Homo sapiens: one gene and its partners. The protein of the gene in region 1 interacts with the protein of each later gene in a biochemical or structural test. Each region holds a gene or a part of one and is shown on either strand. Other genes may lie near its edges.

Evidence for each region.
Region 2: the proteins of RGS4 (region 1) and UBR1 interact in a test that uses a peptide from one of them, tested with the Homo sapiens proteins (one study listed by BioGRID).
Region 3: the proteins of RGS4 (region 1) and GNAO1 form a complex in vitro, tested with the Homo sapiens proteins (2 studies listed by BioGRID).

The regions. Positions count from the first base shown.
Region 1 is NC_000001.11:163,074,653-163,077,357, forward strand, and holds the end of RGS4 (regulator of G-protein signaling 4), read left to right. Parts: 3' UTR 1-2,150; downstream 2,151-2,705. UniProt on the Homo sapiens protein: Inhibits signal transduction by increasing the GTPase activity of G protein alpha subunits thereby driving them into their inactive GDP-bound form. Activity on G(z)-alpha is inhibited by phosphorylation of the G-protein.
Region 2 is NC_000015.10:43,095,907-43,099,640, reverse strand, and holds part of UBR1 (E3 ubiquitin-protein ligase UBR1), read left to right. Parts: intron 1-3,734. UniProt on the Homo sapiens protein: E3 ubiquitin-protein ligase which is a component of the N-end rule pathway. Recognizes and binds proteins bearing specific N-terminal residues that are destabilizing according to the N-end rule, leading to their ubiquitination and subsequent degradation.
Region 3 is NC_000016.10:56,334,489-56,337,988, forward strand, and holds part of GNAO1 (guanine nucleotide-binding protein G(o) subunit alpha), read left to right. Parts: intron 1-240; coding exon 241-369; intron 370-2,242; coding exon 2,243-2,372; intron 2,373-3,500. UniProt on the Homo sapiens protein: Guanine nucleotide-binding proteins (G proteins) function as transducers downstream of G protein-coupled receptors (GPCRs) in numerous signaling cascades.

The DNA of each region.
Region 1 (2,705 bases):
TATCCACATTGTAGCCTAATATTCATGCTGCCTGCCATGTGTGAGTCACTTCTACGCATAAACTAGATATAGCTTTTGGTGTTTGAGTGTTCATCAGGGTGGGACCCCATTCCAGTCCAATTTTCCTAAGTTTCTTTGAGGGTTCCATGGGAGCAAATATCTAAATAATGGCCTGGTAGGTCTGGATTTTCAAAGATTGTTGGCAGTTTCCTCCTCCCAACAGTTTTACCTCGGGATGGTTGGTTAGTGCATGTCACATGACATCCACATGCACATGTATTCTGTTGGCCAGCACGTTCTCCAGACTCTAGATGTTTAGATGAGGTTGAGCTATGATATGTGCTTGTGTGTATGTCTATGTGTATATATTATATATACATTAGACACACATATACATTATTTCTGTATATAGATGTCTGTGTATACATATGTATGTGTGAGTGTATGTATACACACACACACACACACACACACACACTTTTGCAAGAGTGATGGGAAAGACCCTAGGTGCTCATAACTAGAGTATGTGTATGTACTTACATGGGTGTTTTGATCTCTGTTCTTTCATACTACATTTGAACAGGGCAAAATGAACTAACTGCCATGTAGGCTAAGAAAGAAATGCTAACCTGTGGAAAGTTGGTTTTGTAAAATTCCATGGATCTTGCTGGAGAAGCATCCAAGGAACTTCATGCTTGATTTGACCACTGACAGCCTCCACCTTGAGCACTATTCTAAGGAGCAAATACCTTAGCTCCCTTGAGCTGGTTTTCTCTGATGGCACTTTTGAGCTCCTAAGCTGCCAGCCTTCCCTTCTTTTCCTGGGTGCTCAGGGCATGCTTATTAGCAGCTGGGTTGGTATGGAGTTGGCAGACAGGATGTTCAACTTAATGAAGAAATACAGCTAAGGCCTTGCCAGCAACACCTGCCGTAAGTTACTGGCTGAGTGAGGGCATAGAAGTTAAAGGTTACTGTTTTTATCCTCTATCCTTTTTTCCTTTCCTGATCAAGGTGCTCTTCTCATTTTTTCCTGAGAACCTTAGCCATCAGATGAGGCTCCTTAGTTTATTGTGGTTGGTTGTTTTTTCTTTATAATGGCTCTGGGCTATATGCCTATATTTATAAACCAGCAGCAGGGGAAAGATTATATTTTATAAGAGGGAACAAATTTTCACAATTTGAAAAGCCCACATAAGTTTTCTCTTTTAAGGTAGAATCTTGTTAATTTCATTCCAAACATCGGGGCTAACAGAGACTGGAGGCATTTCTTTTTAGGCTCTGAGACTAAATGAGAGGAAAAGAAAAGAAAAAAAAAATGATTGTCTAACCAATTGTGAGAATTACTGTTTGAAACTTTTCAAGGCACATTGAAATACTTGAAAACTTCTCATTTATGTTATTTATGATGTTATTTTGTACGTGTTATTATTATTATATTGTTTTATAAATGGAGGTACAGGATATCACCTGAATTATTAATGAATGCCCAGGAAGTAATTTTCTTCTCATTCTTCTAAAACTACTGCCTTTCAAAGTGCACACACACGCGTCCACATACACTGCATTCGTTGCTCCAGTATAAATTACATGCATGAGCACCTTTCTGGCTTTTAAGCCAATATAATGGGCTGCAAAATGAAGACACCAGAGTGTATGCATACAAATCTCACTGTATTAAAGATGCAGGTTTTCTAATTGTACCCTTCTTGTCTCTCTGGCAATCTTGCCCTTAATATCCCTGGAGTTCCTCATCAGTGTCATTTTCTGTTATACACAGTTCCACAATTTTGTCTCTAGTTGACTTCAAATGTGTAACTTTATTGGTCTTGCCCTATTATAATTGTCATGACTTTCAGATTGTATCTGAACTCACAGACTGCTGTCTTACTAATAGGTCTGGAAGGTCACGCTGAATGAGAAGTAAATTATTTTATGTAATACATTTTTGAGTGTGTTTTTCAGTTGTATTTCCCTGTTATTTCATCACTATTTCCAATGGTGAGCTTGCCTGCTCATGCTCCCTGGACAGAATACTCCTTCCTTTTGCATGCCTGTTTCTATCATGTGCTTGATAGGCCTCAAAGCTAATGCTTCCAGTGAAACACACGCATCTTAATAATAAGGGTAAATAAACGCTCCATATGAAACTATTTGCTTGGAAACACATTAATGATCCAGAGACATGCTATGAGAAACATCAGGGTGTAGGGTGACTTTAGAAAAATACTCATACTGAGTCTTTAATCCCTCCTGTGCCAGTGAACTCTGGGAAAGAAAGTACAAACTGAATATTGTTTATTCTTTAGTTCATGCCACTGCTCTGCTTGGCTCTACTCATAGAACCAAGGCAATCTTAGCTTCAGAGACTGCAAAACAGATTAAGTGATTTGCTTGCAGATTCTCAATCAATTTTCAAGGGATAGAGTTCACCTTCCAGAGCCATTCTTTTATTTCCAGTTACCCGCCTGTTTGAGAGATGATAGAGCAGTGGGAAATTGAGAGAGTTGAAAGGAGCTATAGATTCTTACCCAAACTTCAAAAATCCTTCCCTCCCTTTTGTTAATTCTCTTTCCTGGAAAAGAGGTCATAAAATGTTCACATCCTCAGTAATAGGCCCTGTGCTGTGTCTATTATGTCATGAGACTCCCATTTCCTGACCCTTCTTTCCCATTGTAAGAGTAGTAGTTACAAGGTGTTAAGGATAG
Region 2 (3,734 bases), on another chromosome or scaffold:
GAGAGGAAGTGGGGGTAATAGAAGCTGAGAATGTTAAGAGATATTAACATTATTGAGATATAATTTACATACAATAAAATGTACCCATTTAAGGCGTTTCTTGGATAAATTTTAACAAATGTATATACTTGTGTGACTACCACCAAATCAGGTTATAGAATATTTCTGTTATTTCCCAAAGTTGTCTCCTGCTGAAATGGGAGGATTTTTTAAAAGTTTAATATTGTTATGGTTACGCAATAATCATTATGGAAATCAAAGAAAAATGTACCCATAATCTCATATCTGTAGGGGAACTTTTTTTTTTTGTTTTTTTGGAGACGTCACCCAGGCTGGAGTGCAGTGGTGCAATCTTGGCTCTCTGAAACCTCTGCCTCCTGGGTTCAAGCAATTCTCTTGCCTCAGCCTCCCGAGTAGCTGGGATTACAGGTGCACACCACCATGCCCACCTAATTTTTGTATTTTTAGTAGAGACGGGATTTTGCCGTGTTGGCCGGGCTGGTCTCAAACTCCTGACCTCAGGTGATCCACCCGCCTCAGCCTCCCAAAGTGCTGGGATTACAGATGTGAGCCACCGTGCCTGGGCTATAGGGGATCTTTAAAATACAACATAATCTCTTGACTTCAATATAGAAGTGAGGAGTTATATGTGATTTTAATTGGAGATGATTTTCCTTAGAAATTTGAATCTATATTGTTTTAGGCCAGAGCACAGTTTTGTGTAGTAAGGACACACTCTGAGTGGGAAAACTGATGAAAATGTAGGTCTTTTGAGTCTAACTGAAGTACTTTGTCACCAGATCTTAGCAAGACCTAATGGCTTTTGTTTTTTCACCATCTCATAATTTCTATTTTGGGGAGTTAGGGAAATTTTGATTTTTTAATGCCAGATTCTATAGAATTAGATGTGAAATTGAGTTCTAAAACTCTAAGTCAAAATGACTGATTCAGCCCCACTAACTAAGAGTCTAGGGAAGGAACAGTAACTTAGTGTAGATGTGCTAGTGCTGGAAACTGACTTCTTATAATACCAAACATCCTGCAAATGAAAAGGTTTTTGTCCTCAGTACTGCACAAAGAGTGTGTCTGGATAGATACTTTTATAAATCAGTGATACAGATGAACCAGTGAAATACAGGCATACCTTATTTTATTGAGCTTTATTATTGTGCTTTGTAGATAATCAGTTCTTTACAAATTGAAAGTCTATGGCAACCCTGTCTCAAGGAAGCCTTTCAGTGCCATTTTTTCAACATTGTGTGCTCACTTCGTGTCATTGTGTCACATTTTGGTAATTCTCACAATACTTCAAACTTTTTCATTATTATATCTGTTATGATGATCTGTGATCAGTGACCTTTGATGTTACTATTGTAATTGTTTTGGGGTGCCATGAACCACATCCATAAAAGACAGCAAACATAATAAAAAAAGCTGTGTTTGTTCTGACTGCCCCACTGACCAGCTACTTATCCATCTCTCTCCGTCTCCTTGGGCATCCCTATACCCTAAGATGGGACAATACTAAAATTAAGCCAGTTAACCCTACAATGGCCTCTAAGTATTCTAGTGAAAAGGAAAGTTCAACATTTCTCACTTTAAATCAAAAGCTAGAAATGATGAAGCTTAGTGAGGAAGGCTGTTGAAAGCTGACATAGGCCAAGAGTTATGCCTCTTGTGCCAAGCAGTTAGCCAAGTTGTGAATGCAGAGGAAAAGTTCTTGAAGGAAATTAAAAGTGCTACTCTAGTGAACAGACAAATAATAAGAAAGTGAAACAGCCTTACTGATGATGTGGAAAAAGTTTTAGTGCTCTGGATAGAAGATTGAACCAGCCACAATATTCCCTTAAGGCAAAACCTAATCAAAGAGCAAGGCCCTCACTCTCTTCAGTTCTCCGAAGGCTGAGAGAAGTGAGGAAGCTGCAGAAGAAAAGTTGGAAGCTGGCAGAGGTTGGTTCGTGATGTTTAAGAAAAGAAACCATCTCCACAACATAAAAGTGCAGCGTGAAGCAGTAAGTGCTGATTGATGGAGAAGATGCAGCAAGTTATGCAGAAGATCTAGCTAAGATAATTGATGAAGGTGGCTACACTAAACAGATTTTCCATGTAAACGAAACAGCCTTCTGTTGGAAGAAGATGCCATCTAGAGCTTTCATAGCTAGAGAGAAGTCAATGCCTGGCTTCAAAGGACAGGCTGACTCTCTTGCTAGCGGCTAATGCAGCTGGTAATTTTAAGTTGAAGCCAATTTCCATTTACCATTCAGAAAATCCAAGAATACTTAAGAATTATGCTACTCTGCGTATGTTGAATAAATGGAACTAGAAAGCCTGGATGACAGTACATCTGTTATAACATGATTTACTGAATATTTTAAGTCCACTGTAGAGAACTGCTGAGAAAAAAAAAAGATTCTTTTCAAAATATACTGCTTATTGACAATACATTTGGTCACCCAAAAGCTCTGATGGAGATATACAAGGAGATAAATGTTATTTTCATGCCTGCTAACACAATATCCATTCTGTAGCCCATGGATCAAGGAGTAATTGCAACTCTCAACTCTTACTATTTAAGAAACACATTTCATAAAACTATAGCTTTCATAAATTACGATTCCTCTGATAGATGTGGGCAAAGTCAATTGAAAAACTTTTGGAAAGGATTCAGCATTCTAGATGCCATTAGGAACATTCATAGTTTGTGGGAGGAGGTCAAAATATCAACATGAACAGGAGTTTGGAAGAAGTTGATTCCAACCCTCCTGGATGACTTTGAGGGGTTCAAGACTTTAGTAGAGGAAGTAACTGCAGATGTGGTAGAAATAAGAGAACTAGAATTAGAAGTGGAGGTTGAAGTTATGACTGAATTGCTGTAAACACATGATAAAACTTAATGGATGAGGAATTGTTTCTTCTGGATGAGCAGAGAAAGTGGTTTCTTGAGATGGAATCTACTTTTGGTGAAGATGCTGTGAACATTGTTTAAATAAGAACAAATGATTTAGAATATTCCATAAACATAGTTGATAAAGCAGCCGCAGAGTTGGCAAGGATTGACTCCAGTTTTGAAAGAAGTTCTGCCATTGGTAACATGCTATCACATGCTACAGAGAAATCTTTTGTGAAAAGGTCAATCAATGTGGCAGACTTCATGGTTGTCTTATTTTAAGAAATTGCCTGGCCGGGCGCGTTGGCTCACGGCTGTAATCCCAGCACTTTGGGAGGCCGAGGTGGGCGGATTGCCTAAGGTCAGGAGTTTGAGACCAGCCTGACCAACATGGTGAAACCCCATCTCTACCAAAAATACAAAAATGAGCCAGGCGCCTGTAATCCCAGCTACTCGGGAGACTGAGGCAGGAGAATTGCTTCAATCCGGCAGGCGGAGATTGCAGTGAGCCCAGATCGTGCCACTGCACTCCAGTCTGAGGGATAGAGTGAGACTCTGTCTCAGAAAAAAAAAAAAAAAGAGAGAAATTGCCATAGCCACCCCCACGTTTAGCAATCACCAACCTAATCAGTCAGCCATTAATATTGAGGGAAGATCCCCCTATCAGCAAAAAGATGACAACTTTCTAAAGACTCAGATGATCATTAGCATTTTTTAGCAGTATTTTAACATTAAGTACATTTTTAAAGACTTCATACTATTGCACTCTTAGTATAGTGTAGTGTAAACATAACTTTCATATGCATTGGGAAACCAAAAAAATTTGTGTGACTCACTTTATGTTCAC
Region 3 (3,500 bases), on another chromosome or scaffold:
TGTCCCGGGAGCTGCATGCGTAGCCCTTTTGGCTGTGAATGAGTGCGTGAGGCCAAGACCCCTAAGACCCACTTCCTCAGTCGCCCCCACTCCCTATGGCCTGGAATGGAGGTGATGTCTTTTCCACAGTGACCTGGAGGGGCCCTGACCGAGACTGGACTCTGAAGATGGGTGGCCTGGCCAGTCCCGAACAGTGTCCAGGCATTTGGTCCATAGTCCCCTGTTTGTTGCCATCCTCAGCTACCTGGACAGCCTGGATCGGATTGGGGCCGCCGACTACCAGCCCACCGAGCAGGACATCCTCCGAACCAGGGTCAAAACCACTGGCATCGTAGAAACCCACTTCACATTCAAGAACCTCCACTTCAGGTGAGGCCCAGAGAGGCCCCCAGGCCCTGGCGAGGGCTAAGATGGGACATGCCCAGCCTCTCAGCGCATTGCGTTTACAGCGCCCAAACATCATCCTGCCCCAGGGAACCTGCGGGCTGGGGCAGGCAGCTAGATACTAGAAGGAACCTGTCTGTGTTTCTGCCAAGGTTAGGGGCTGGAGTGAGCAGGGAGGCTTTCTGGAAGAAGATTCCCAGAGTGGGGCTGTGAGGAACAGGGAGGATTTGGACAAGGAGGGGCAGCCTGTCCCTGAGGTGACTTCCAAGGAGGAGGAGGAGGTGGGCTACCAGGGGGCCCTTCCAAGGTCACCTTGGGGGGAGGAGCCAAGAGTGGGGCTGGGTAAGCCCAAGCTACCTCTGTGAGACCCTGAGGACCCAAGTAATCCCAGAGCTGGAAGGAGCAGAGAGAGCTGACCCACCCTCTCCTAGTACGCTTGGGAAGCTGAGGCCTGACAAGAGCAGGGCTTTTCCCAGGCACAGAGCACAGCTAGAACCCAGGGGCTCTGGGGCCTCAGAGCAGGGGCCTGACGGGTGAGCTGGTTCCCAGGGTCCTGCTGCAGCGCTGTGTCCCCACCTGCAGTAACATGCGTGCACTGAGGCCTGCTCCGTCCTGTGGGGAAGAGAGGCCAGCAGAGAAGGGGAGGGCAGGGACCCCTGCTGGGAGAGCTGGATTCTAATATTCCCTGCCTCCCATGTCCCCAACTCCTGCCCGCTCCTGTTCAGACTGAGGGGCCGAGGCTCTGGGCCCAGGAACCCCTAGGCCTCCGCAGATCTGGGGAGCAAAACCTTGGGCAGAGCAGCCCTGAGGGGCCTCTCTTGCCTTCCCAGGCTCCTTGGTCTCTCCTGCTCCCCCACTGGGAGCACAGGATGGGGATCTCAGCTCAACCCAGCCCAGCAAGGCGGGGTCTGAGAATAAGCATTCTGGAGGGGCCACAGAGGCCATCTGCCAACGCCCCTGCATTTCAGATGGGGAGGTGGGATCCAGGGGAGGATCCCCTGATTGATGGAATGAGAACCAGACCCATTCCTTGCTCTGAGCCCACACTAATCTCTGCCTGCAGTCACTCCGTTGTGTCCGGTGGGACCAGAGATCCTTCCCTGTCCCCCTCTGGCAGGCTGTGTGTCAGCAGGCATCCCAGATCTAGGAGGCTACAGGACTCCTCGCTCTGGGGATTGGGGTGGGAGACTGACCTTTTACTTCCAGGACGTAAGTCCCACCTGCCCACAGTCTCTTCCAGAATTTTTGTGCCCCCTCGGGAGTAGAGTCTGAGAGGGGGAAGAGGCCAGGCTCTGATCTGCCAGAAAGGGGCCGTACTGGGCAGAGGTGAGAGCGCCAGCTTTGTCCACAGCCAGACCCAGCTCCACCACAGCTGGACTCTCGCCAGCTTGGGCATGTCCTAAGCCCATGGGTGGCTCACTTCTGCCATCCACATAACAGGTGACATCTCCTGCCTGCCTCCCTCCCAGGCTGGTTTGGAGTTTGCCCAGAGCAAACCCAGGAAGGAATAGACTGAGAGGAGGGTCCTCATGCGAGGAGGACTCTCAGAGGCACTTCCTGGGGGTGGCTCAGGTGCGCCCTCTTAGTAAAATGCTCCTCAGATGCAAGGGCAGGTCTTTGAGTCATGATCTGTGAGCACAGCCAGTCCCAGGACAGACTCCAGGGGTAGTGCCTGGGGATGGCAGTGATCCAGCTGTCTGTCATCACCTGGAGTGACAAGGTCTTCTAGTGAGGGCTTTTAGCAAGGCTCTGAGCACCATGGCCCCCATCCTCTGCCTCTCAGCGTGCTCACAGCTTAATCCCCAGGCAGCCCTCACCTGCCTGGACCCTGCGCCTACCAGCTCCCTGCCTCCTACAGGCTGTTTGACGTCGGAGGCCAGCGATCTGAACGCAAGAAGTGGATCCATTGCTTCGAGGACGTCACGGCCATCATTTTCTGTGTCGCGCTCAGCGGCTATGACCAGGTGCTCCACGAAGACGAAACCACGGTGAGTGGCCTGGGCCCCCCGGGCAGGGGGCAGCGCTGAGGAGACGGCCGCAGGATAGGCCAGCCCTCTGAGCACTGGGCCTCGGGTGCCCACAATGGCTCTGGGGTCCAGCCAGCTGTTGTGGTTAGAGGTTTCCATCATGGACAGGCCGTGCCGGCACTCCACCAATTCTGTATTGCCAAGGCAAATGCCTCATGATGCCAGTGTGGCAGAGCCTGTGTATGCAACCTGATCACACAGAGCCGTGCAGAATGTGCCTCTTCCATAAACTTGGTGGAGTCACAGAGGCCATCAGGCCATAGCAAATTTAAGCAAACCCTAAAAAAACCAGGAGGCAGCCAAGCAAGAATGTACAGGCAACAGAAATAGCAGTCTTAGCCTGACAGCCATCCCTGGGGCACTGGCGTCAGATGCTGCTGAAGCAGCATGGGGCCGGGGATGCTGAGGGAGAGGTGGGGAGGGCCCAGGATGCTGCAGGAGAGTTGCGTGGGGTTGGGGGTGCTGGGGAGCAGTGTGTGGGGCTGATGGGCCAGGAAGGGCAATGGGGATGAGGCATGCTGGTGAGTGACAGTCGTGGCTCTGGGCTCCTTTGCCAAATGCCAGACCAGGCTCCTACCTTCTGTCTTGCGTCACATTCAGCCTAGGGCCTCAGTGAGGGGACATTCCCCTGGGAGAGTGCAGCCTTCCTCTGGGTCTAGTCCTGGCTCTGCTACTCACTGGCTTGCTGCTGAATTTAGGCAGCACCCTTTCTGGCTCAGTTACTATTTTCCATAAAAGGGAGATAATAATAGTACCTGCCTGTGGGGGGCTGTTGGCAGTGGGGTGGGTGATGCGTGTGCAGCGCTCTGGAGCTGTTTCTGGGACAGCAGCGCCAAGCTGGTGGTTGTACAGTTGCTGGTGATTGCCCTGAGCCTGCAGGTCCACTGCGTGGTCCCCTTCTGGGCTGCAGCCCGCCAGGCACCGAGCATGGCCCACAGGGTCACTGGAGACAAGCCCCAACACTCCTGACAGCGGGGCCCATAGGCTATGGGGTCACAGCCTGGCGTCTGTCATCTCCTTCTGTCTGGAACACATGCAAATCCCCCACCCCACGCCTCTGAAGGCTGGCACCGAGGGTTTGAGGTTGGA